4 linked regions of the Homo sapiens genome follow. The protein of the gene in region 1 purifies or fractionates together with the protein of each later gene. This does not show direct contact. Each region holds a gene or a part of one and is shown in the gene's direction. Other genes may lie near its edges.

Evidence for each region.
Region 2: the proteins of TBC1D22B (region 1) and KLK7 purify together in Homo sapiens (affinity purification with mass spectrometry; 2 studies listed by BioGRID and IntAct, with this or other methods). This does not show direct contact.
Region 3: the proteins of TBC1D22B (region 1) and SERPINB13 purify together in Homo sapiens (affinity purification with mass spectrometry; 2 studies listed by BioGRID and IntAct, with this or other methods). This does not show direct contact.
Region 4: the proteins of TBC1D22B (region 1) and CD207 purify together in Homo sapiens (affinity purification with mass spectrometry; 2 studies listed by BioGRID and IntAct, with this or other methods). This does not show direct contact.

Annotation. Positions count from the first base shown.
Region 1 is NC_000006.12:37,252,896-37,260,787, forward strand, and holds the start of TBC1D22B (TBC1 domain family member 22B), read left to right. Parts: upstream 1-4,876; 5' UTR 4,877-5,022; coding exon 5,023-5,078; exon of another isoform or gene 5,079-5,249; intron 5,250-7,892. UniProt on the Homo sapiens protein: May act as a GTPase-activating protein for Rab family protein(s).
Region 2 is NC_000019.10:50,975,961-50,980,951, reverse strand, and holds the end of KLK7 (kallikrein-7 isoform 1 preproprotein), read left to right. Parts: intron 1-464; coding exon 465-712; intron 713-1,027; coding exon 1,028-1,164; intron 1,165-3,260; coding exon 3,261-3,416; 3' UTR 3,417-4,484; downstream 4,485-4,991. UniProt on the Homo sapiens protein: May catalyze the degradation of intercellular cohesive structures in the cornified layer of the skin in the continuous shedding of cells from the skin surface. Specific for amino acid residues with aromatic side chains in the P1 position.
Region 3 is NC_000018.10:63,590,321-63,597,361, forward strand, and holds part of SERPINB13 (serpin B13), read left to right. Parts: intron 1-2,027; coding exon 2,028-2,156; intron 2,157-2,533; coding exon 2,534-2,651; intron 2,652-3,705; exon of another isoform or gene 3,706-3,854; coding exon of another isoform or gene 3,855-3,918; intron 3,919-4,034; coding exon 4,035-4,177; intron 4,178-4,708; coding exon 4,709-4,864; intron 4,865-6,638; coding exon 6,639-7,041. UniProt on the Homo sapiens protein: May play a role in the proliferation or differentiation of keratinocytes.
Region 4 is NC_000002.12:70,829,711-70,832,857, reverse strand, and holds the end of CD207 (C-type lectin domain family 4 member K), read left to right. Parts: intron 1-1,038; coding exon 1,039-1,157; intron 1,158-1,657; coding exon 1,658-1,808; 3' UTR 1,809-1,936; coding exon of another isoform or gene 1,937-2,049; 3' UTR 2,050-2,647; downstream 2,648-3,147. UniProt on the Homo sapiens protein: Calcium-dependent lectin displaying mannose-binding specificity. Induces the formation of Birbeck granules (BGs); is a potent regulator of membrane superimposition and zippering.

The DNA of each region.
Region 1 (7,892 bases):
TCCCAAAGTGCTGGGATTGCAGGTGTGAGCTACTGTTACCCAGGTGATGTATATTTTATAATATTAAAAAACGGTAACATTAAAGAAAAGTTCCAGAAGTACCAAGATGTATATAATTCTACCCTCTACCAAAATTTGCTTAATTTTTCCACGTTTTCTTCCAATCTTTGACAAAACCCATATATTCTTATTGAAATCATGCAAAGATATTTTATATTCTACCTTTTCCCTGCTGTACATTTCATACACCTTTTTGATGTGCTATGTAGCATTCAAATTTGCCCTCTTTAATGGTATAACATGGTTCAAGTTTATAAACTGCACACCATAATTTACATAACTTCTTCTCATGTTTAAATCTTCATATTCTTTTCATTTTCCCCTGTTTATTATTGGTTGCAAGGCAAAGAATATCTTTGTACACAGAGATTTCCCCCTTTCTTCTTGCCAGGTATGGTGACTTCTTTTCTTAGAATAAATTCTTAGGAATGAAATACCTAGTTTTCCCTTCACCCCCCAAATTCTAAAAACTTTCTCTTCCTCTCTTTATTCCTATAACCTCTTACTTTTTCAGTCTTTTTGCTTATCCCCTTGCCTTCTCTAATATAACTGATCTCTGCCATTGGCTCTAACAGTGGTTGTTTAGATACTATAAAGCTCTCTTGCTGTTAAATCCCAGCTTGACCTCACTATCTCTTAGGTGGCCCAACATTGCACAGTGCATTGTGAGGGCTGCTTCTTGCTCTCATTTCTTAACCCTTCCCCTCATCACAGTGTCTACTTCCTTCCTTCCACTCCACTCCTTCACTAAGGTTAAAGTCTGCCAGGGATCTCTCTGTAAGTCCAAAGGCTTTTTTCTCTATTTTTATCTTCCCATTGGAGCTCCTGTCCTGAAGTGACTTTCCTCCTATAGTTCTTCAGGCCTTTCTCTTTCCTTTTCTCTCCCTACTCAAGGATTATCTCTTTCATAAAACTTTCTCTAAGGGTTGGGATATGCCTACCTCTTTTGAGTCCACAGTCAACCCAGGCATATCTCATCCCTTAACTATACTTTGCCACATTTTAAGTTGTTTAACCCTCTTTTGAATGAAGATGAAGTTGAGGGGGGGAAAGTAAAAACTTGCAGAAGCCTCTACTTACAGTTTCAAAATAAACTCTTGAGATAAAGTAAACAATCACAGGCCATACTGTATTAGTAACAGAAGATCTATAAAGTGAGGTCCATGGATCAGCAGCATCAGTGTCACCTGGGAGCTTGTTAGAAATTCTGAGTTGTAGGCTCCACCTCAGACCTCCTGAATCAGAATCTAGGTTTTTAATATAATCCTCAGTGATTCACATGTGCAATATAGTATAGGAAGCACTGGTCTAGTGGACCAGTGAATGTCTGCCAAGAAGGACCTCCATCAGAAGGCCTCTAAGGACCCCTTGGGAACCTCAAACCAATGATTTACACCTCTTGCTGGGCAAGGGTGGCTGCCATACCTATCAGCCCTTTGATGACAGCTACCAACTGATCTCCTGACTAGGTGGGTGGCCTCCCTCCCTCATCATTCCAGGTACAGGCACATTCCTTTGAAGCTGCAAAAGAGTTTGAAGAATACAATCTTTCTCAGAGAAGACTGTTCTTCAACCAAGGATGTAGGCAAGGATGTAGAGTCATTGGTAAAGTGGACACATCCTACTAGGGGTTAGGAAACACTGTTTCTATCATCTTTCCTAACATAAAAATATGTGAACAACATAGAATCGAAAGACAAGAAATATTTATATTCTTCCTTCTTTCACTCAGTAAATATTTACTAAGCACTCACTATGTTCCAAACACTATTCTAGGTGCTGGGGATACAGCAGGGAACAAAACAAAGTCCCAGTCTTAGTGGGGTTCACGATCTCTAGGGCAGTAGTCCCCAACCTTTTTGGCACCTGGGACCAGTTTCAGGGAAGACAACTTTTCCATGAAAATTTTGGGGGAGGGGGGTTAAAGGATGAAACAGTTCCACTTCAAATCACAAGGCATTAGATTCTCATAAGGAGTGCGCAATGCAACCTAGATCCCTTGTATGAGCAGTTCACAATAGGGTTCAAACTCCTGTGAGAATCTGCTGCTGCTGCTGATCTGACAGGAGGCGGAGCTCTGGCAGTAATGATTGCATGCCCACCCGCCACTCACCTCCTGCTGTGCGGCCTGGTTCCTAACAGGCAACAGACAGGGGGCCTTTACTCTAGGGGATGGAGATGGACAACAAACAAGTACATAATATGGCCTGTAGTGATAGCGCTTTAAAGAAAAATAGAGCCAGGCAATAAGACCAATGGGCATGGCTGCAGCAGATTAAGCAAGAAAGAAAGCATAATGAGATGAGACTGGAGAGGTGAGTGGAGCCAAGTCATGTAGGGTCTTTAAGGAGCTTGGATTTTATGCCAAGTACAATGGGGGCCATTGCAAAGTTTTCAGCAGAGGAGTGACATGATATCGTCTACATTTTAACAGGGTGTCTCTGGGCAGGGTGCGATGGCTCCCACCTGTAATACTAGCTCTCTGGGAGGCCAAAGGTGGTGGATTGCTTGAGTTTCAGGAGTATGGGACCAGCCTGGGCAACATGGTGAAACTTCATCTCTACAAAAATACAAAAAATTAGCTGGCCATGGTGGTATGTGCCTGTTAGTCCCAGCTACTCAGGAGGCTGATGTGGGAGGATTGCTTGAGCCCAGGAGATGGAGGTTGTAGTGTGCTGAGATCATGTCACTGGACTCCAGCTTGGGTGACAGGGCAAGACCTGGTCTCAAAAAAAAAAAAAAAGGTCTCTCTGGTTGGTATATGGGGAATGGACTCTAAGGGGCTAAGAGTGGAAGCAGGGAGCCGAATAGCAGGCTGCTGTAAGCAGGTGTGTGGTTGGTGAAGATTAGGGTGACCAAGTGGTAGTGGTGAAAAAGGTTCCAACAATCTCAATTTCCCTATTTAAAAAGTCATCACAAGGTAACTGATGTGAATTTTTAAAAAATCTTGGAGGGGAAACTGATATAGAAAACAAACTGTAGAAATAACAGGGCTTTTCTGGGTTGAGCACTGTTAACTACACCCCCTGGGAATCAGTGTCATTTAACATTTCATAGAAGATTAAGAAAAAGGAGTATTTTGAGATATGTCTAGATACACAAATCATACTTTGCTTTCCACATAGTAAAATGTCAAATCAATAGGGAGCAGCTTCTGGAACATCTCTAAAGCCATGTGCATAAGCTGGAAAGTGGCAGGTATCTTGTCACATGGATGAGTGTATGGCAGCTCACATAGGGAAAGACAATTCAGAGGATACCTTTAAGACAATGAACTCTGAACTGCTGGTTGCCACCAAGGTAAGGAATCTAGAAGTTGTTTTAGATTACTCTTTCAAGACATCAACTCTTCTAAAGTCCAAACAGCCAGCAAAAGGTCTGGCTGTCCAGAATAAAGACAAAACATCAGCCTTAACAAAGCCTCAGTACATCCCTCTTTGGGCTTAGTGTGCAGTGCTGGTCACTGCATCCTAAGAAAAAGAAGCGCCAGAGAAAGGCAAGTAAAATAATTAAAAGAATAGAGGGGCTTTTTTTCTCTGGGTTAAATGCCCATAAAGAAGATAAGATGCTTTTATAGCATGAAAGACTCAGAGGAAGTAAAAATAGCCCTTGTCATCCAATCCTATAATTCTTAAATTAGGGGACAAAAGAAGCTTGAAAATGGGAGTAATGAAGAAACCGTCGTTGGAGGACATATAAAAGAAGGTCCTTCTTTGGCTGGGGCCAGGGGTCAGGTCTTTAAGTATTCTCCAATATGTGGAAGTACATGTGGTAGCTGTAAATGGAGGGTGGGGGTGGGGGTGGGGGACACGCAGCCCACCTCAACAGTCCTTCGAAGGGACAAAAACCACTCTGGACTGGTGCCCGCCTTCCCTCTTTCCCCAAATCACCACGGAATACAACCACAGAAACTCAAAACCAGCAAAAAACGCTGACAAGACATTCAAAGGATTCAAAATGCTAATACTAAATCTCATTGTCTGGGAAAATTAGATTGAAAATAAATTCAAGGGTGCAAGATTTATAATAGATTAACAAGGGAAATTAAGGATGTTGGTGGGGCCGGGAGGAGATACATCCTTAACTTTGTGATTCACACGATGGAGCAATACTGTGTCCTTCAAAGAAATGGTATTTGGTAATCTGAGTTGGACAGCTATCATAAACCATTTCCTATATACACTGTTAGCATAGTCAGAAAGTGAGAGTTATGGATTGACATAGGGATTAGATCATTTGAATTTTTAACCCACAGCACAAGTCCTTCAATCGTTTTCAATAAACAGAGGGAGAGGGAGACTCTGATGAACCGTTGCTCACGTGTTGAACAGTTAGCAATCCCGGGCTATCGGGTCCCTGCTGACCTTCCTTCAGAAAAACGAATGGACATGTAAACGGAATGAGGAAAGGAGGGTAATAACCAGAGTGTCATTGAATTGAGAGATGTTAAAAATGGGCCACAACCAACACATGGGCCCTTACTTTTAGGTGAAAGATTCCTATATATAAATACATAGTATGTTCTCTCTTGCCAAGAAATATTAGACTAAGGAACTTCATTCCTCACGAAGAAGATAATCCCCTCTTCCTTCCCATAGGTCCCTTACCTTACCTGCTTCTTCCCTCTCGCGGGTAGGAACTTTGAGCCCCGCCTCTCGGCTCGTCCAAGCTCCGCCTTCCCCGTCCACCTGTGTGCCCAGCCCCTGACGTTACCGGTCGGCTTCAGCGGCCTGCAGGATTCCGGCTCCCAATTGGTCGGCCCGTCCACGGCTTGCGCAGCTCACCAATGGCAGCGGTGCTGGGTGGAGGGGTGCCCACATCCAAGATGGCGTCCCCAGGAGCTGGGAGCGGGTGACCGGCGGCGGGGAAGCGGCCTGGGTTGGCCCTCAGATTGCGGGGTCTGGGGGCATCTCGCCGGGCAAACCCTTGGCCCGCCTACAAGGACTTCCCCCGGCCAGAGCAATGGCCGCTGAGAACAGCAAGCAGTTTTGGAAGAGGAGCGCTAAGCTGCCGGGGAGGTGAGCCCAGGACGCTGAGAGGGATAGGGGATTGGACCAAACCCTTCCAGATCCTAATCCCTGAATCCCGCGGGCCTGGGGCGCCACAGAGGCCAGAAGACTGGTTTGGGGAAGCTGGGACTGCCTGGTGGCGGCAGGGCAGCTGTCAGGCAGCGAAGCGAACAGCGAGCTTTGGGGACGGCTGGATGTGGGTGTAGACCGGGGTCTGGGGGCGGAGGTTTCAGGAGGGGTGACCTCAGCGGGAAGGTGGCCGAAGATTGGGCGTAAAGGGGAGTGGAGTTGGGTGAATAGTCAGTGTCGGCCCTGGTCTCGGAAGTTCCTCCCCAGAGCTGCTTCCCACTCTAATTAGGACTCCCTCTCAGGGGTCTCCACCACGCACAGGTGGTTGGTCGCTCGAGGATGGCCCCTTCCCTTGATCCCTGAGGTCGGCACTTACCCGAAGGATTCCGGTGGGAGTTTGGGGCCGCCTGCCGAGAGGGTTAGGCAGGAAAAGTGAGGACGATTCTCAACCCTGACCTTACTTTATCTTGAGTTGGCCCTTTCCCACTAGGAATTATTACAAGACGACCACAGAATCAGGGTTATTCCTTTGGCATTTTCTAAGGATTTGTCCAACCCCAAGTGACTTCTTCCTCCCCTGCATTGTAATGCACTTCTTGTGCAAATGCACTAAATTCGTTCATTCTTCAGTTGTTTAACTGGAGAGCAGACCCCCTAAGACTACCCCCACCCTCTTTTCGGTGTATGTTGAGACTTTTGGCAAATTATCCATCCATCAATCTACTGTTGGTTTACTGTTTCAGTTTATTTTGGGCAAAGTCCTGAGAAGTATAAGGAAGAGTGTGTATTTCAGTCGTAAATTTAAGATTTCTGCCAGCTACAGTCTACTTGGTGATGAAATTCATGTTTGGTTGTGTCCCCTGTGCTACCTTTTCTAATGGATTCAGGTTTTTTCCTTCTGGGATAATCTTTTGAACTCGTGACTTTTTTTTTTTAAGCGAGAGAGAGATGAGGGTCAGTAGTGGCTAGGTAAGAGCCTTAATTTTTTTTTTTTTTTTAAATGAAATAGAGACAAGGTCTGACTGTGTTGCCAGGGCTGGTCTCTGACTCCTGGCCTCAAGTGATCCTCTTGCCTTGGCCTCCCAAAGTGTTGGGATTACAGGCGTTAGCCACCATGCCCCACCAAGAGTCTTATTTTATTAAGGATTCTAGTAGACATATGGAGAATAGGGTGGAAATCAGCTTTTAGTAATACTTATTAAAGTAATAGAAAGGAATGCAAAGATAACTTCAGATTAAAGTGCTGTGGACTCAACAGTGTTAATATTACTGTTAAAGATGTTCTGTGTTTTTAGGTAAGCACACTTCCTGCCAACTGATTCCTTTTCCTTCCTGGTCTAGTGAGCTCTCTAGTTGTGCTAACTGCTATTCTCTGGGGTTTTCCGTAGTGAGATCATTAAATTTTGACATCCTAAGATTATAATCATAATCAATAGGAAGACTGTTGTATCAGGAAGCAGTGTAAGAGATGTGGGACGTGGCATGGGCTTCTGTGCCTTCTGACTGCTGGTTGCTATTAACAATCTTTTTTTCCTATATTTCCTGTATTTGGCTATAAGAACAGTCAACTTTTTTAAAGCACTACTTTTCTGAGATAGGAAGAGAAGTCTTTTCAGTTTCTTCAAGTTTCTGGATTCCTTTTTCATTTTGAAGAATATAGAGAAATAGAGAACTTTCGAGTTCAGAAAGACTTGGGTTACTATTTGGGCTCTGTTGTGTGTGTGACCAAGACAAATAATCTTTCTAGGCCTCAATTTCCTTACCTATGAAATGAGAAATAAAAATACTTTCCTCAGAGTTACTGTGGGGACTAAGTGAAATACCCTATTTGTAAAGAGCCTAGGACAGTGTTTATTTAGCACATTATAGTTGCTCAAAAAAACAGTAGTTATTAACATTGCTGTCATTATTACAGCAAGTAAACATTTAAAATAATGTTACTCAGATCCTTACCCCAGCTCATTGTCTTCGTTGTTTAAGGTATTCAAATATTGTCACAATTCATAATAGTTTTTAGTACCTTACTTGGTAAAGAGAAATACTGTTCAGCTGTGTGCTTTTAGCAGTGAAGCCCACAAGCCTCTGGTCATAGGAGAAAACTAAGGTTCTTTTAGATAGAAAGGTACTTTGGTTTAAAGAAAATGTTAGGGCATTTTCTCAAGAATAGAACTTTTGCATCTGTACTCTTTCGGTCTTAGAGAAGAAAAACTTTCTCCTGGGTGGGGAAATGACACAAATGACTCTACTGGATGCATGCAAACTTGGAAATGAAACTAGTTTACTCTTCTTTGCAAATTGAAAGGTGAAAAATAAAAGCGATGACAGGGTTCTTTCCATTTGTCTGATCATGATCCAACAATCTTAGTGACAACAAATAGAAATTTTATTAAATAAAAGAAGTTGCAAATGAATGAAACATTCTTTTTAAAAATAACAGCTTTATTGAGATATAATTCACATACCATAAAATTCACTCTTTTAAAGTGTACAATTCAGTGGTATTTAGTATATTCATTTATAGTATAGATGGTTTTGTGCAACCATCACCACTAATTTCAGAACATTTTCATCATCCTGAAAAGAAACTACATACCTGTTTACAGTCACTCCCCATCCACCCCACTCCAGACCCTGGTAACTACTAACCTACTTTCTGTTTCTGTGGATTTACCACTTTTGGACATTTTATATATATGGAGTAATATGATCTGAGGCCTTTTGTGAGTGGCTTCTTTTATTAAGCACAGTGATTTC
Region 2 (4,991 bases), on another chromosome or scaffold:
TGTCCCCCTCTCTCTCTGGTCTCTGTTCCCCTCTCTCTGGGTCTCTGTCCCTCTCTCTCTGGGTCTCTGTCCCTCTCTCTCTGGATCTCTGTCCCCCTCTCTCTCTGGGTCTCTGTTCCCCTCTCTCTGGGTCTCTGTCCCCTCTCCTCTCTCTGTGTCTCTCTCCCCCCTCCTCTCTCTGTGTCTCTGTCCCCCCTCCTATCTCTGTGTCTCTCTCCCCCCTCCTCTCTCTGGGTCTCTGTCCCCCCCTCTCTGGGTCTCTGTCTCCCTCTCTCTGGGGCTCTGTCCCCCTCTCTCTCTGGATCTCTGTTCCCCTCTCTCTGGGTCTCTGTCTCCCCTCCTCTCTCTGTGTCTCTGTCCCCCCTCCTCTCTCTGGGTCTCTGTCCCCACCCCGTCCCCCAGGTCTTTGCACACCCTCTCTGTCACAGTGTCTCTTCTGAATCTGTGAATGTCACTCCTCGCAGTGAGTACACCGTGCACCTGGGCAGTGATACGCTGGGCGACAGGAGAGCTCAGAGGATCAAGGCCTCGAAGTCATTCCGCCACCCCGGCTACTCCACACAGACCCATGTTAATGACCTCATGCTCGTGAAGCTCAATAGCCAGGCCAGGCTGTCATCCATGGTGAAGAAAGTCAGGCTGCCCTCCCGCTGCGAACCCCCTGGAACCACCTGTACTGTCTCCGGCTGGGGCACTACCACGAGCCCAGATGGTAGGTGGCCTCAGTGACCCAGGAGTGCAGGCCCCAGCCCTCCTCCCTCAGACCCAGGAGTCCAGGCCCCCAGCCCCTCCTCCCTCAGACCCAGGAGTCCAGGCCTCAGCCCCTCCTCCCTCAGACCCAGGAGTCCAGGCCCCCAGCCCCTCCTCCCTCAGACCCGGGAGTCCAGACCCCAGCCCCTCCTCCCTCAGACCCAGCAGTCCTGGGCCCCAGACCCTCCTCCCTCGGAACCAGGAGCCTGAACAACAGCCCTTCTGGTCCTCGCCCCCATCCTCTCTGACTGACAGCTCTCCCTGCTCCTCCCTGCAGTGACCTTTCCCTCTGACCTCATGTGCGTGGATGTCAAGCTCATCTCCCCCCAGGACTGCACGAAGGTTTACAAGGACTTACTGGAAAATTCCATGCTGTGCGCTGGCATCCCCGACTCCAAGAAAAACGCCTGCAATGTGAGACCCTCCCCCCCAATTCCTCCCCAGTCCTGGGTACCCTGTCTGCATGCCCCAGGGACAGAGCTTGACCCGAGTGACTGGGTACCAAGCCCGGCCTTGCCCTCCCCCCAGGCCTGGCCTCCTCAGCTTTTTCCACCTCATTCTCTGCCTAGGTCAGGGGTGGGAGTTTACTTAGGGGCCAATGTGGCCCTGGGGATGAGACAGAGAGTTTAATAGGGGTGAGAAAGTGGGGGTGGGACCAGGGAAGGAGACTGAGGTGCTGGCCTCAGGCCCAAACCTTAAGGGGGCACCAAAAACCTCAGTGATTGAGATAAATCATAATGCAATATTTAAAAATAAAAATAAAAACTCATGCAGAAGTCCATGATGGACAAAATGTCACATTTTAAATAAAGAGCAGGTGGATCTTACTGAATTTTCCCTTGCCGTAAGTACTAGCGTGGCTCAGCACAGCGCTGTACTGGCACTGTCTTCATTTAAAATGTGGATACCATGCCCATCATGCAGTTTTATGTATTACATTTGATTTCGTTAAGTACTGCATTGAAGTATTGTGTATTGCAGTTACTGAGATTTTGTGCCTGAAGCTGATGACTCACTCACCTGACCCTGGCCCTGGTCCCGGGGAAAACACTCTTTCTCTCCACCTCCTCTCTGTTCCCTCTTTCTGGCCTTTTGTCATCCCCTCTGTTTCTGAACAGTCTTCCCACATCTCTCTTTGTGACATAATTTCATTTCATTCTTTTCCTCTTTGTTTTTTCTCTGTGTTGAGCTAGCTTGCTCTCCCTCCCTTGTTCTCTCTCCATGCCCTCCTCTCTGCTCTCTGTCTTCTCCCTCTTTCTCTTGCTTCTCTCTCTCTCCTCCCCTCCCTCTCTCCTCTCCCTGCCCCCCTGCTCTCTCTTTTTTCCTCTCTCTCTGTCTCCTCTCTGGCCCTCTCCTCTTTCTCTCTCTCCCCCACTTCTCTGTCTCTCTTCATCTCTCTCCCTCATCTCTCCTTGCCCCCTCCTTTTTACTGTCTCTCTCTTTCTCTTTCTTCTATCTCTCTCCTCTCCCTGCCGCTCCCCCATCTCTGTCTTTCTTTCTCTCTCTTTATTCTCCTCCTCTCTTCCAGTCTCTCTCTCCTCTCCCCACCCCCACCCCATCTCTCTCCCCACACCTTCCCCCCCTTTCTCTTTGTCTCTCTCTTCTCCCTCTTTCTTCTCCACCCCCATCTCTCTCTCTCTTCTCTTCCCACACCCTCCCCATCTCCCTCATCTCTTTGTCTGTCTCTCTTCTCCCTCCTTCTTTTCCACCCCCATCTCTCTGTCTCTCTCTCTCCCCATACCCTTTCCCTCTTCCTCATCTCTCTTTGTCTCTCTCTCCTTTCCCTCTTTCTTCTCCACCTCCAACTCTCTCTGTCTCTCCACACCCATCCTCCTTGCTCACATCTGCACCTTCAGCTGTCAGGGGATGTGGGATGGTGAGTGTTAGGGATAGAGGAGATGGGAGAGAGATGACTGTCCTAGAGAATAGGGTGTTCCCCTTCTCCCCTGGTGAGGGCCAGTTTCATGAATGTGCAAGCTCTGCACGGACACAGAGCCCCACACTCAGAAGGGTCTCAAACTTAGTCTAATGCATTCCTGCTGTTGTCTTGAAATTCTCAATAATTTTTGAACAAAGGGCCCTGCATTTTCGTTTTGCACCAAGTCCTGTAAATTATGTAACTGGTCTTCACCCTGGTCTCCGAGACCATCGTGTCCCCCTTTCCTGCGCCACAGGGCACGCATCCACCCCTTGGAGATGATGTTCCTTCTCCCACTAGCTTGGAGCAGGGTCCTTAACATTGGAAAATAAAGAGTGCTCTGATCCTGGAAGCCCCACCCCTTCTCTGCAATTGGTCTCATTGGCCAAGGGTCAAACCAGTGTCTTCAAAGGACCTAGTGTGTCCCTAGCACTAGCTCTCCCATTAGTCCCCAGAGACAATGAGTCTCTTCTCATTGGCTATGGTGGAAGTCCATAATCTGCAAGACAAAGACCGATAACTGAGGAATGTATGAGAATGAGTTGGGCTTTGATCTGAAGCCAAAGTTAATCTCCGGCTCTATTCCCTCTAGGGTGACTCAGGGGGACCGTTGGTGTGCAGAGGTACCCTGCAAGGTCTGGTGTCCTGGGGAACTTTCCCTTGCGGCCAACCCAATGACCCAGGAGTCTACACTCAAGTGTGCAAGTTCACCAAGTGGATAAATGACACCATGAAAAAGCATCGCTAACGCCACACTGAGTTAATTAACTGTGTGCTTCCAACAGAAAATGCACAGGAGTGAGGACGCCGATGACCTATGAAGTCAAATTTGACTTTACCTTTCCTCAAAGATATATTTAAACCAACCTCATGCCCTGTTGATAAACCAATCAAATTGGTAAAGACCTAAAACCAAAACAAATAAAGAAACACAAAACCCTCAGTGCTGGAGAAGAGTCAGTGAGACCAGCACTCTCAAACACTGGAACTGGACGTTCGTACAGTCTTTACGGAAGACACTTGGTCAACGTACACCGAGACCCTTATTCACCACCTTTGACCCAGTAACTCTAATCTTAGGAAGAACCTACTGAAACAAAAAAAATCCAAAATGTAGAACAAGACTTGAATTTACCATGATATTATTTATCACAGAAATGAAGTGAAACCATCAAACATGTTCCAAAAGTACCAGATGGCTTAAATAATAGTCTGGCTTGGCACAACGATGTTTTTTTTCTTTGAGACAGAGTCTCTGTTGCTTGGGCTGCAATGCAGTGATGCAATCTTGGCTCACTGCAACCTCCGCCTCCTGGGTTCAAGTGATTCTCGTGCTTCAGCCTCCCAAGTACCTGGGACTACAGGTGTGCACCACCACACCAGGCTAATTTTTTGTGTATTTTTACTAGAGACAGGGTTTCACCATGTTGGCCAGCATGGTCTTGAACGCCTGACCTCAGATGATCCACCCACCTTGGCCTCCCAAAGTGCTGGGATTACAGGCATGAGCCACCACGGCCAGCCCACAATGATATTACAAACCTATTAAAAATGATACTTAGACAGAATTGTCAGTATTATTCAAGAACATTTAGGCTATAGGATGTTAAATGACAAAAGGAAGGACAAAAATATATATGTATGTGACCCTACCCATAAAAAATGAAATATTCACAGAATCAGATCTGAAAACACATGTCCCAGACTGCATACTGGGGTCGTCATGAGGTGTCTCCTTCCTTCTGTGTACTTTTCCTTGAATGTGCACTTTTATAACATGAAAAATAAAGGTGGGGAAAAAAGTCTGAAGATCTAAGATTGGAGAGAGGTGACCTTTCAGGAAGGGAGACTAGAAAGAAATATGTGCCTGGTTTTGAGCCCTGGTCCTGCCGGCCCTGTTCCAGGGCATATTTCCATTTCCCAGATCTCAGTTTTTCCTGTCTGTAAAATGGGAGAGAGAGGAAAGGATGGAGAGAGGAAGAAGGAAGGGAGGAGGGAGGAGAGAACAGGCCAACTTCATCAGCGTGGGAAGGGGTGTGAAAGTGTTTCTGAGCATCTCACGAGTGACAAGTGAGGAGGGAGGCTGGCGGTTTTCAGAGGGATTGGGATGACAGTAGACAGGACACAGGGGTCCCACGGGGGTCTGCCAGAAGTAAGCAAACAGTGCCGGAGGAAGATGGTGGCACCTGCTCCCCAAGAAGGGAGGGAAAGGAACCTCGGGAAGCGGGTAGGATGAGGGAGGAGTCCTCTGTGACTCAGAGCCTGGCCACAGCCCCAGCCATCTAACATCAAAGATCCTCTGTGTGGTCACACCTCAGACGCT
Region 3 (7,041 bases), on another chromosome or scaffold:
GAATAAGCCCATTAGGTCGGGGCTAGGATCAGACGTTAGCACTCTCAGGAAGGGCACAGCTGCTCTGACAGTAGTCATAGTGCAATTCCAGACCCTCATAAAACCATGGCTCAGATCACCCAGCAATAGGAGCTGCTCATTTCACAACCCCAAAAGGCTAGGTCGTGTGGGTGGCTCAGTTGCTCCTGTGGAGGGTCAGGCTTCCTTTCAGGGTTTGCGCAACCAAGTTGGGTCATATGGCCACTGCAATGTTCCCTCAACTGAGAAGTGCAGTTGTCTTCAGAGCACATTCTTTCTCAGCCATGATAGCCCATGTAGAACCTTTGTGCAAATTAGAAAACAGCTCATTCTTTTGGATAGCTGCCCTACTCCTATGTGAAGGGCTAGATGACTGGGGTGGAAACTGAATTTCAGCTTTGTGTAAGGCAAAGCTTACACATACATGCTGTCTAGCAGTTTTGCCCATTCCCCAGAATTTTCCTGGGAGCCACAGGGGTATGAAGAGAATAGAATTACTGACTGAAAGGATATTAGCACTGGAATACATCTTAGAGGTCATCTACTCCAATCTCCTCATTTAATAGTTTGCCCAGAGACTGGCTTGGCATGTACCCGTTTGATTATTATGTAAATTCAGAGTATTTTGAATCTTGCTTTTAAAAAATGCTGATAAAATCTCAAGACATATGTACAAAAGGTATAAGGAAAAATGCAATAAACACACTTTAACCCCTCCTTTAAGTGTACAAAATAAACTATTACCAAATCAGCTGATGCCCCTTAGGCTGATGTATAACACCTTCCTTGAGCACGCCCCCATCCTCTCCTCAGAGAGGAAGTCCCACTATTGTGGATTAGGTGTTCATTATTCCCACGTATTTATTATTTCATTACATGCCATATATTTTTGTCATTCTTCTTTGGAACTTGATTATTTTTGGCTTAGCATCATGTTTATAAGATTCATCTATTTTAAGGGGATACTTATAGCTCTATTTGATTCATTTTTATAGCTATTTCCTCATTTATTTTGTTGATGGGGCCGGCCTTCCTTCCTTCCTTCCTTCCCTCCTTCCTTCCTTTTTTCTTTCCTTCCTTCCTTCCTTCCTTCCCTCCTTCCTTCCTTTTTTCTTTCCTTCCTTCCTTCCTTCTACAAACAATGCAAAAATGGCCTTTTTAATGCCAGCCTCCTAATTTGCCTGGGTGAGAGTTTATCCAGTCCCAAGCTATCCAGTATAGTAGCTACTCAAGTGGCTATTGAACACTTGCAATACATCTAGTTTGAATCCAGATGTGCTATAGGTATAAAATGCATATTATATTTTAAGAACTTAGTATGAGAAAGGAATACAAAATATTAATTTTCATGTATTATTTTTGCTGAAATATGTATCTTATATATTAATATGTAATTAATATTTATTGTATTTATATGTTGAAATAATGACATTCTAGATATGTCGTTAAGGTAACATAGAATATGAAAACTTCAATCAGAAAACTGATGGGTCCTACATAAAATATTCAGAAAATTTTTTTTTTCCCCTGGAGACAAGGATAAATCTCACTTCAGCCCAATGTGTAGTGACTCATACCATTAGGAGTCACTCTTCTTATTCACTATCTGGAAAAATTTCCAAACTTCAATAGATAAGAATCGTCCGGAGAAATCACTTACTTTCCTTAGATGCTTAGAATCTTGTGGGGAGCTAAAAACAAGCTTATTGAACATTTAGTGAGCACTTTTATTTGAGACCAAAAAAGCCCACAACTTGAGTTATAAATGCAAGATCTGTGGTGTTGGGCTGGCAGAGAAGGCTTCTCTCTGGAGCTGAGATTGGTCATAACTGACATTATCATATGACTTGGGTAAAGGCTACCTGATATCCAGGGGCCACATCAAACACAGGGATCACCCTTGAGGCTGACAAACGGAGGGAGAGACCCAGCAGCCGCATCCTCTTAGGGGAGAATCTGGGCTTGCTTTTGCCAAGATAACCTGTTGAGATTTTGTTTTAATTTTCAAGATTGAGAACACAGAAGCAGTACATCAACAATTCCAAAAGTTTTTGACTGAAATAAGCAAACTCACTAATGATTATGAACTGAACATAACCAACAGGCTGTTTGGAGAAAAAACATACCTCTTCCTTCAAGTAAGTTTGCCATGCCTACCATATCTGTGAGTGGTATTCTGGAATGGCCAAATGGCCCTGGTAGGACTATGGGTCCTGAAGTCGTGCTGCCTGGCTCTGGCCACATCCCTGTGGTGCTTTTCCATCCTGATCTACAGATATTCAGAACTGCAGGGAGTTCCTTTTTAGTCCTGGCAATCTGAACCTGATTTTTGCCTCATCCCCAGAATAGCTGCATAAAAATGTGCAGCAGGAACTCAATGTGAGATGCCCAGGGCCTTAAAATTTCTCTTACTGTATTAGTCATCCTAATGTATACATAAATTTATTTAGAGATGTTGGCAATTGATAAATTGAGTTTTTAACCTCTTTTTATTCCTTCCTTGTTTCTCCTAAAGAAATACTTAGATTATGTTGAAAAATATTATCATGCATCTCTGGAACCTGTTGATTTTGTAAATGCAGCCGATGAAAGTCGAAAGAAGATTAATTCCTGGGTTGAAAGCAAAACAAATGGTAGAGTATGGGTGGGTCATTCATTGCAAAAAAACAAAAACAAAGAAACAAACAAACAAAAAACACTTCTTGACAACCTGCTGTGAATGAAGCCCTGGACTTGTCACTGCGTGGGGTGCCATGCAGTGCACAAGCTTTGGGAAGGGACTTGAGATAGGTTTTGCAGGGTTGGAAGGGCAAGCCCAGGCCTAGGAGGTAGGGAAGGCACTGCAGATGGTGGAGCAATTTCAGCAAATGTGGAGCGGCCAAGGGGAGCCAGTGAGGGGACTGCATGAAGCCAAATGCACGGAAACGCTTGCTGGAGAACTGTTTACACATAGCCATGGATCACAATATCTTGGGGGTCCTGAAAATAGGATGATGCCTGTCTTGGGTTTACATTCTTTCCTTTATATCAGAGCCTTTCTTCCTGAGTTTTTCTCTGTCTGTGTTAAATGAGAAACACGCAGCTCTCCCATCAAGACTTGTCGTTCCCATCCACAGCTGGGGCCACCTAGTCTTCATCTTCACTTAAGCATAGTGCAGGGGTAACGACAACCTACAGCTCTCCCCACAGCAGAGGATTTGACAAGTTTCTTATCCCATTATTCCTTTCTCATCCCCTGGTATGGGAAATCCACAGAGAAATGTTAATGTGGAAATTCACCTTGGGGAGCAATAGCTGATACTTTAGTGTTAGAGTTTCAGATTCCATTTTTATACCAATTATCAGAGAGAACTTTGTTATTCAGAATGTGTTTTTTTTTTCCCCTCATGCTTGGTCTGAAGAAAGGAAATAAAAGAAACAGAAAAAATAGGATCTTTCAAAAAGTTGAACAGTATTTTTTAGAATTTATTGTGGGATGGGGTGAACTCAGAGACAAAAATATCAACTCCTTCTCCAATATAATAAGTAATCCCTTAATCTCAGGTGGTAACTATATTGAATGGTAAGCATAATAGCTAACACAGAGTGCTTATTATGTGTGAGATGGTATTCTAATAGCTTTACATGTGTTAAATCATTTGTTCCTTTCAACAACCCTATGAGGCAGATTTTATTCCTATTTTACAGATGTGGAAACTGAGGCACAGAGAGTTTAAATAACTTGCCCAAGATTCCTCAGCTGATAAGAGGCAAACTGGATGCTAACAGAGGCATCTGACCCCAGAGTCTGGACTCTTAACCATGAACCTTAATTTATCCACTGGGATAAATAGGCGATGGGCAAAATGAGAACCTCCCCGTCGATTCTGCCAGCAAACCCTTTGTCAGCAAGGCCCTCAGGTGCTGACCTGGCTGGGTTTTTAATGATCAGTCAAGTCCATCTGCATCATATTTGTCATACATATTATTTGTCATTTGGAAGATGGGTCAACCTTTTTCTGTTTCTTCATTTGCAGAAAAAATCAAGGACTTGTTCCCAGATGGCTCTATTAGTAGCTCTACCAAGCTGGTGCTGGTGAACATGGTTTATTTTAAAGGGCAATGGGACAGGGAGTTTAAGAAAGAAAATACTAAGGAAGAGAAATTTTGGATGAATAAGGTATGGCCCTTAGTTTATTTTCGTGATGTGCTTACACATGGAATGTAAAGTCTAAAGTCATGGCTGGGCGTGGTGGCTGACACCTGTAATCCCAGCACTTTGGGAGGCCAAGGTGGGTGGATCATGAGATCAAGGGATCGAGACTATCCTTGCCAACATGGTGAAACCCCGTATCTACTAAAAACATAAAAATTAGCTGGGTGTGGTGGTGCACGCCGGTAGTCCCAGCTACTTGGGAGGCTGAGGCAGGACAATTGCTTGAACCCGGGAGGCAGAGGTTGCAGTGAGCCAAGATCATGCCACTGCACTCCAGCCTGGTGACAGAGTGAGACTCCATCCCCCACCCCCCCAAAAAAATCTAAAGTCATATTTGAGCAAATGCATACTGGTAGATAGTGGATGCTCATTCTGAGACTCTGATATTGGGTTTTATTTTAGATTGAGCTAATTATTTTGATGAACTAACTTGGTTGCCTTAATGCCTTTGGTCTTATGTCCTTTGATATTGTGTGCTCTGTTAATTTGTTGCAGAGCACAAGTAAATCTGTACAGATGATGACACAGAGCCATTCCTTTAGCTTCACTTTCCTGGAGGACTTGCAGGCCAAAATTCTAGGGATTCCATATAAAAACAACGACCTAAGCATGTTTGTGCTTCTGCCCAACGACATCGATGGCCTGGAGAAGGTAAACGCTTACACCTCCTTATTCTTTCTTTCATTTCCTAAGGCTTTTTGTCTCAGGGCTTCTGAGTAGGAGCTGGTGGCCAGCAGTGTCAAATAGAAAGTGTTTCTCACTCTCCAGCAGCTACAGATGGATGTCTACTGGGGAGCATTAAATAGTATGGGTCAGGTTTATTGAGAACAACTAATCCTAGAATGTTTGGGATGAACTAAAATGAACATTTAAGATTATATGGGAGTCCTAACGATCACCCACCATTCTGAGAAATGGTTGGTATCTATGGACCCCTTTCCTGGAAAAAAGAAATCACATATGCATATATACAACCAGTTCTGCACACTGTTCAATAGGCTTTTGGAGCTTTTGAATTTCTTTCTTACACTCTTACACCATTGATTTAGTCTCATCCATTCTGTGGTTAAAAAAATTATGTGAAGGCCGGGCGTGGTGGCTCACGCCTGTAATCCCAGCACTTTAGGAGGCTGAGGCGGGCGGATCACGAGGTCAGGAGATCGAGACCATCCTGGCTAACACGGTGAAACCCCGTCTCTACTAAAAATACAAAAAATTAGCCTGGCGTGGTTGTGGGCGCCTGTAGTCCCAGCTACTCGGGAGGCTGAGACAGGAGAATGGCGTGAACCTGGGAGGTGGAGCTTGCAGTGAGCCGAGATAGCGCCACTGCACTCCGCCTGGGTGACAGAACGAGACTCTGTCTCAAAATTAAATAAATAAATAAATAAATAAATAAATAAATAAATAAATAAATAAATTGTGGCTAGTGTCCTGTATTTTGAAAATGAGGAGAGTTTTGTTTCAAATCCCTGTTCCTCTAGTGGCTTTCTGACCCTTGAAGCTTCTTAACTTCCTTGAACTTCAATACTTTCCCATCTCTGAAGAGGGCTCCATGGTGGTTAACGTGCAGCAGTGTTGGAATGATTAGAGAAACGTAGCCTAGAAGGGGTCTAGGACATAGAAAGCACTCAAATGATAACTGCTATCGTCTTATACTACCAGATGCTGTGCTACTTCTGTGAAATATTGCTAGTAGCATTTTAAGTTGGAAAATATTTTGAGACAGCAAAATAGCAATATGTCTGAGAGCTTTAAGAGTATTTCTGATTCAAAAACCCCAGTTGTGGGAATTACTCTAAAGAAATAATGCAGAAGAAAAAAGTTGCCTTTCTGAGTAAAATCAGTTATTTCGGTATTAAATACACTGGAATGCCCAGTTTGAAATTCATCGTAATTATTATTTTGTATCCTTAGTAACTATCAAATCTATCACAATGCCTGATAAAGACTAAATGTTTGTAAAGTGAATGAATAGCTAAATATTGGGAAAAATTTATCAACTTCATAAGAATATTATCTAGCTGTTTGAAGATAGGAGAGATATGCAATATTGTGAAAAAGTTTACTTTTTATCAAATAAAATGGACATTCACTGTGATTGCAACTATGTAAATATATATGCATTCAAAGACTAGGAGAGATAGTTAAAATGAAATATATACTAGGTTGATAAAATAAGAAATGACTTATTTTTAATCTTTAAAAATGTATTCAATGCTATTGGATTTCCACATATACACAGATAATTTAAACAGAGAGATATAAGACAACCGCCTGCAGTATAAAGACAACAATCTAGTGAAATAAAATTTCTACTTTTAATATTACTAAAATTAATAACTTCTGACTGACACAAATCAGTGTTACACTGTTTTAGATTTTTATTGATAATCATGCCATTCTACTCTTCTTTTTTTGAAAATAGATAATAGATAAAATAAGTCCTGAGAAATTGGTAGAGTGGACTAGTCCAGGGCATATGGAAGAAAGAAAGGTGAATCTGCACTTGCCCCGGTTTGAGGTGGAGGACGGTTACGATCTAGAGGCGGTCCTGGCTGCCATGGGGATGGGCGATGCCTTCAGTGAGCACAAAGCCGACTACTCGGGAATGTCGTCAGGCTCCGGGTTGTACGCCCAGAAGTTCCTGCACAGTTCCTTTGTGGCAGTAACTGAGGAAGGCACCGAGGCTGCAGCTGCCACCGGCATAGGCTTTACTGTCACATCCGCCCCAGGTCATGAAAATGTTCACTGCAATCATCCCTTCCTGTTCTTCATCAGGCACAATGAATCCAACAGCATCCTCTTCTTCGGCAGATTTTCTTCTCCTT
Region 4 (3,147 bases), on another chromosome or scaffold:
CACTGGGCCAGGGAGGATGGGCAAGATTATACTGCGTGAACAAAAATCCCCAAATATTGATGACCTAATGAAGAAGGATTGGTTCTCAGTAGCATGTCGAATAAGGGCCGGCAAGGGGGCTGTGCTCACTGTGGCTACTCAAGGACCCAGGCCCAAGGAGTCTTCATCTTAATATGTCTCCACAATTGCTGGGGCAGGAAAGGGGAACTTGACATATTGTGCAAAGCTTCTGCCCAGATTTAACATACCTCATTTTTGCTTACATTTCACTAGCTTAAGTTATGTTAATTAAGTTAAGTAAGTTATGCAGTACTCCTGGATTGGGAGGATCCTGGATTCCAGTACTCCTGGAACAGGGCAGAGAGGATCTACTTTCCATGTGCCCAGAAAAAAAGAAATATTTGTGAACAGCCTTAATGATTCCACATGACTCAAGAAGTCTCCTGCCTGGTGAGGCAGAAATTGGGCAGGCCCTTTTCATCTGGGAGGTGGGATAGCAGAGCAGGTCAGAGCCTGGGCTCTGGCGTAGTTCTAGAGCCTGAACCTTGCCATCTAACTAGTCCTAGCAGCTTGGGTGGAATACCCAACTTCACTGGGCAAACTTCACTGGCCCTCACTTGATGAAACATGCATGGTGATGGCACCTGCCTCAGAGGAAAGGAGAGAATGCATATGGACGACTCAGCACAGTGCCGTATGTGGATTCAGGGCTCATTTAATTCAGGTATTATCATATGAACCATTCTCTTGCGGTCCGTGCTCTGGAGTTCAGCTGAGGCCTTCCTGTGCTTCAGCACCTGCTTCCTGAGTGGCAGAAAGGCTTGAGTCCTGAGCTTGTTAGCTGCAGAGCAGGGACACATCATAATCTGGAAGATGAAATCTGGGCTCTGGGCAAGGGCAGGAAGAAGCTTGAGAGGCCAGTTTGTGCAGCGCATCTGTGGGTCAGGGCTGTCACTGAGCGCAGGTGAAGAACACCCAGAGACAGATGATCAAGCTCCAAGTGTGGCCGCACCTCTGCTTATCCTGTCTTTCCTACAGGAGTTTCTGTATAAAACAGCGGGGGGACTCATCTACTGGATTGGCCTGACTAAAGCAGGGATGGAAGGGGACTGGTCCTGGGTGGATGACACGCCATTCAACAAGGTCCAAAGTGTGAGGTAAGCCCCTGGAGCCCTCCGTGCCAGCCTGACTTTCCCCGGCCATGGCCAGGGCATGAAGGGAGTGGGGGCGATGTTCCCCATGAGACAGGGTTTCTGATTCTTCCCTGTCTTAGAGTGACAGGAACATTGCAACCAAGATCGAGCACAACCCTGTCACCAACTGGCTGTGGACCTGAGCCCTCCACGCCCTCTGGGGTTTGGCAACAAGGCCTTCTACCTGGCCAGCTTCAGGGATCTTGTCATGAGTCTAGGTCTTCACAGTGTGGGTTTGTGTAGGGACTTGAAAGTGGTGGGTTGGTTTGGCCTGGACTTGGGGCATGTGAAAGCTTAGAGGTCGAAGTCTCACCAGTCCCCTTCCTCTGAGGCTTGGGTGCAGACATTTGCTATGCCATTCCCTAGGACAAAAGCTTGGGTTGAGTTAACTCATTTCTTCACTGGAAATAAGTTCTTTTTGATTTTCCACTTTGTAAATCCATCTTTTTCCCCGCTCTTGGTAGGTTCTGGATTCCAGGTGAGCCCAACAATGCTGGGAACAATGAACACTGTGGCAATATAAAGGCTCCCTCACTTCAGGCCTGGAATGATGCCCCATGTGACAAAACGTTTCTTTTCATTTGTAAGCGACCCTATGTCCCATCAGAACCGTGACAGGACAGGCTCCCAAGCTCACTCTTTGAGCTCCAACGCTTGTTAAACATGAGGAAATGCCTCTTTCTTCCCCAGACTCCAGGATGACTTTGCACGTTAATTTTTCTTGCTTCAAAATTGTCCCACAGTGGCATTCTGGAGTCCGTCTGTCTTGGCTGGAAATTCTCTGACGTCTTGGAGGCAGCTGGAATGGAAAGGAGAATTCAGGTTAAAGTGGGAGGGGTGGGTAGAGAGGATTTAGAAGTTCCAATTGCCCTGCTAAGGAGGATCAAGACCCGTAATCCGGCATAACACCCTGGGGTTTTCCACTCTTTCAGAGAAACCTCAGCTTCATCACATCAAAGTTACTCCAGAGCAACCAAGCAATTCTCCTGATATTGTCATCCAGGGCTTTTCTTGGCCAAACCCCCTAGAATTTCCATGTCTCTGCTTAGCTGTGCTGGCAGCTAGCAGCTGGCTGTGTTTGCAGTGCAAATAGCTCTGTTCTTGGAAATCCTGCTCATGGTATGTCCCCAGTGGTTTCTTCATCCACATCATCTAAAGCCTGAACCCGTTCTTCTCTGGTTCAAGTCAGTGGCTGACACGGACTTGTATCTCCTTCAGAGCTCGGCTGGCACCCAGCCTCCCTTCTCCTTCCACTCCCTTAGTACACTGGAGTGCCGAGCCCTGCCTTCCACCCAGCGTCCATCCAGCCCCTGTCCTCACCTCTCCGGCACCTCCTCCTCCTTCTGCATTTCCTATCTTCCTGTGTCTTGTGCATGGGAAGCAGCCTTCAGTGCCTTCATGAATTCACCTTCCAGCTTCCTCAGAATAAAATGCTGCCTGGGTCAAGGACTCACTCCAAGTGCACTTTTTCATTTCTGGTTGTCCAGGTGAATATGTGGGAAAGGCAGTCTCCTCTGGTGGACATGAAGTTCTAGGGTATCCTCAGGAAACATCTGGGGAGTCAAAAATAACAAGGACTGGGGAAGTTCCAGTCCTGGAAATGCCACAAAATGTGACCAGTACTTATCTCTAGTTTTTATTAAAGTAGAGCAAGGTCTCCAATGTCACGATCTTGGTGATCTTTCTTCTTGTTTACTGCACAATCTTCTAGTCTATAGCTCAATTCCCAAGAACAAGTCTCAGCAGGTTCCCCACTCTTCACAGAGACCCAGTTCCACAGGCATCAGTTCCAAATCCCAAGTCCAGTGGCTGAAGCTGGAATCCAGGCAGCAGCCACCACAGAGAGGAGAGGAGGGTGGAGTGAGCACAGGTCTTCATTAAGGTCCTCAGGAAAAGATGCTTCCTTAAATAACTGTAACCAGCAGTGTGTTGTTCTGGGTGCAAATGGGTCACA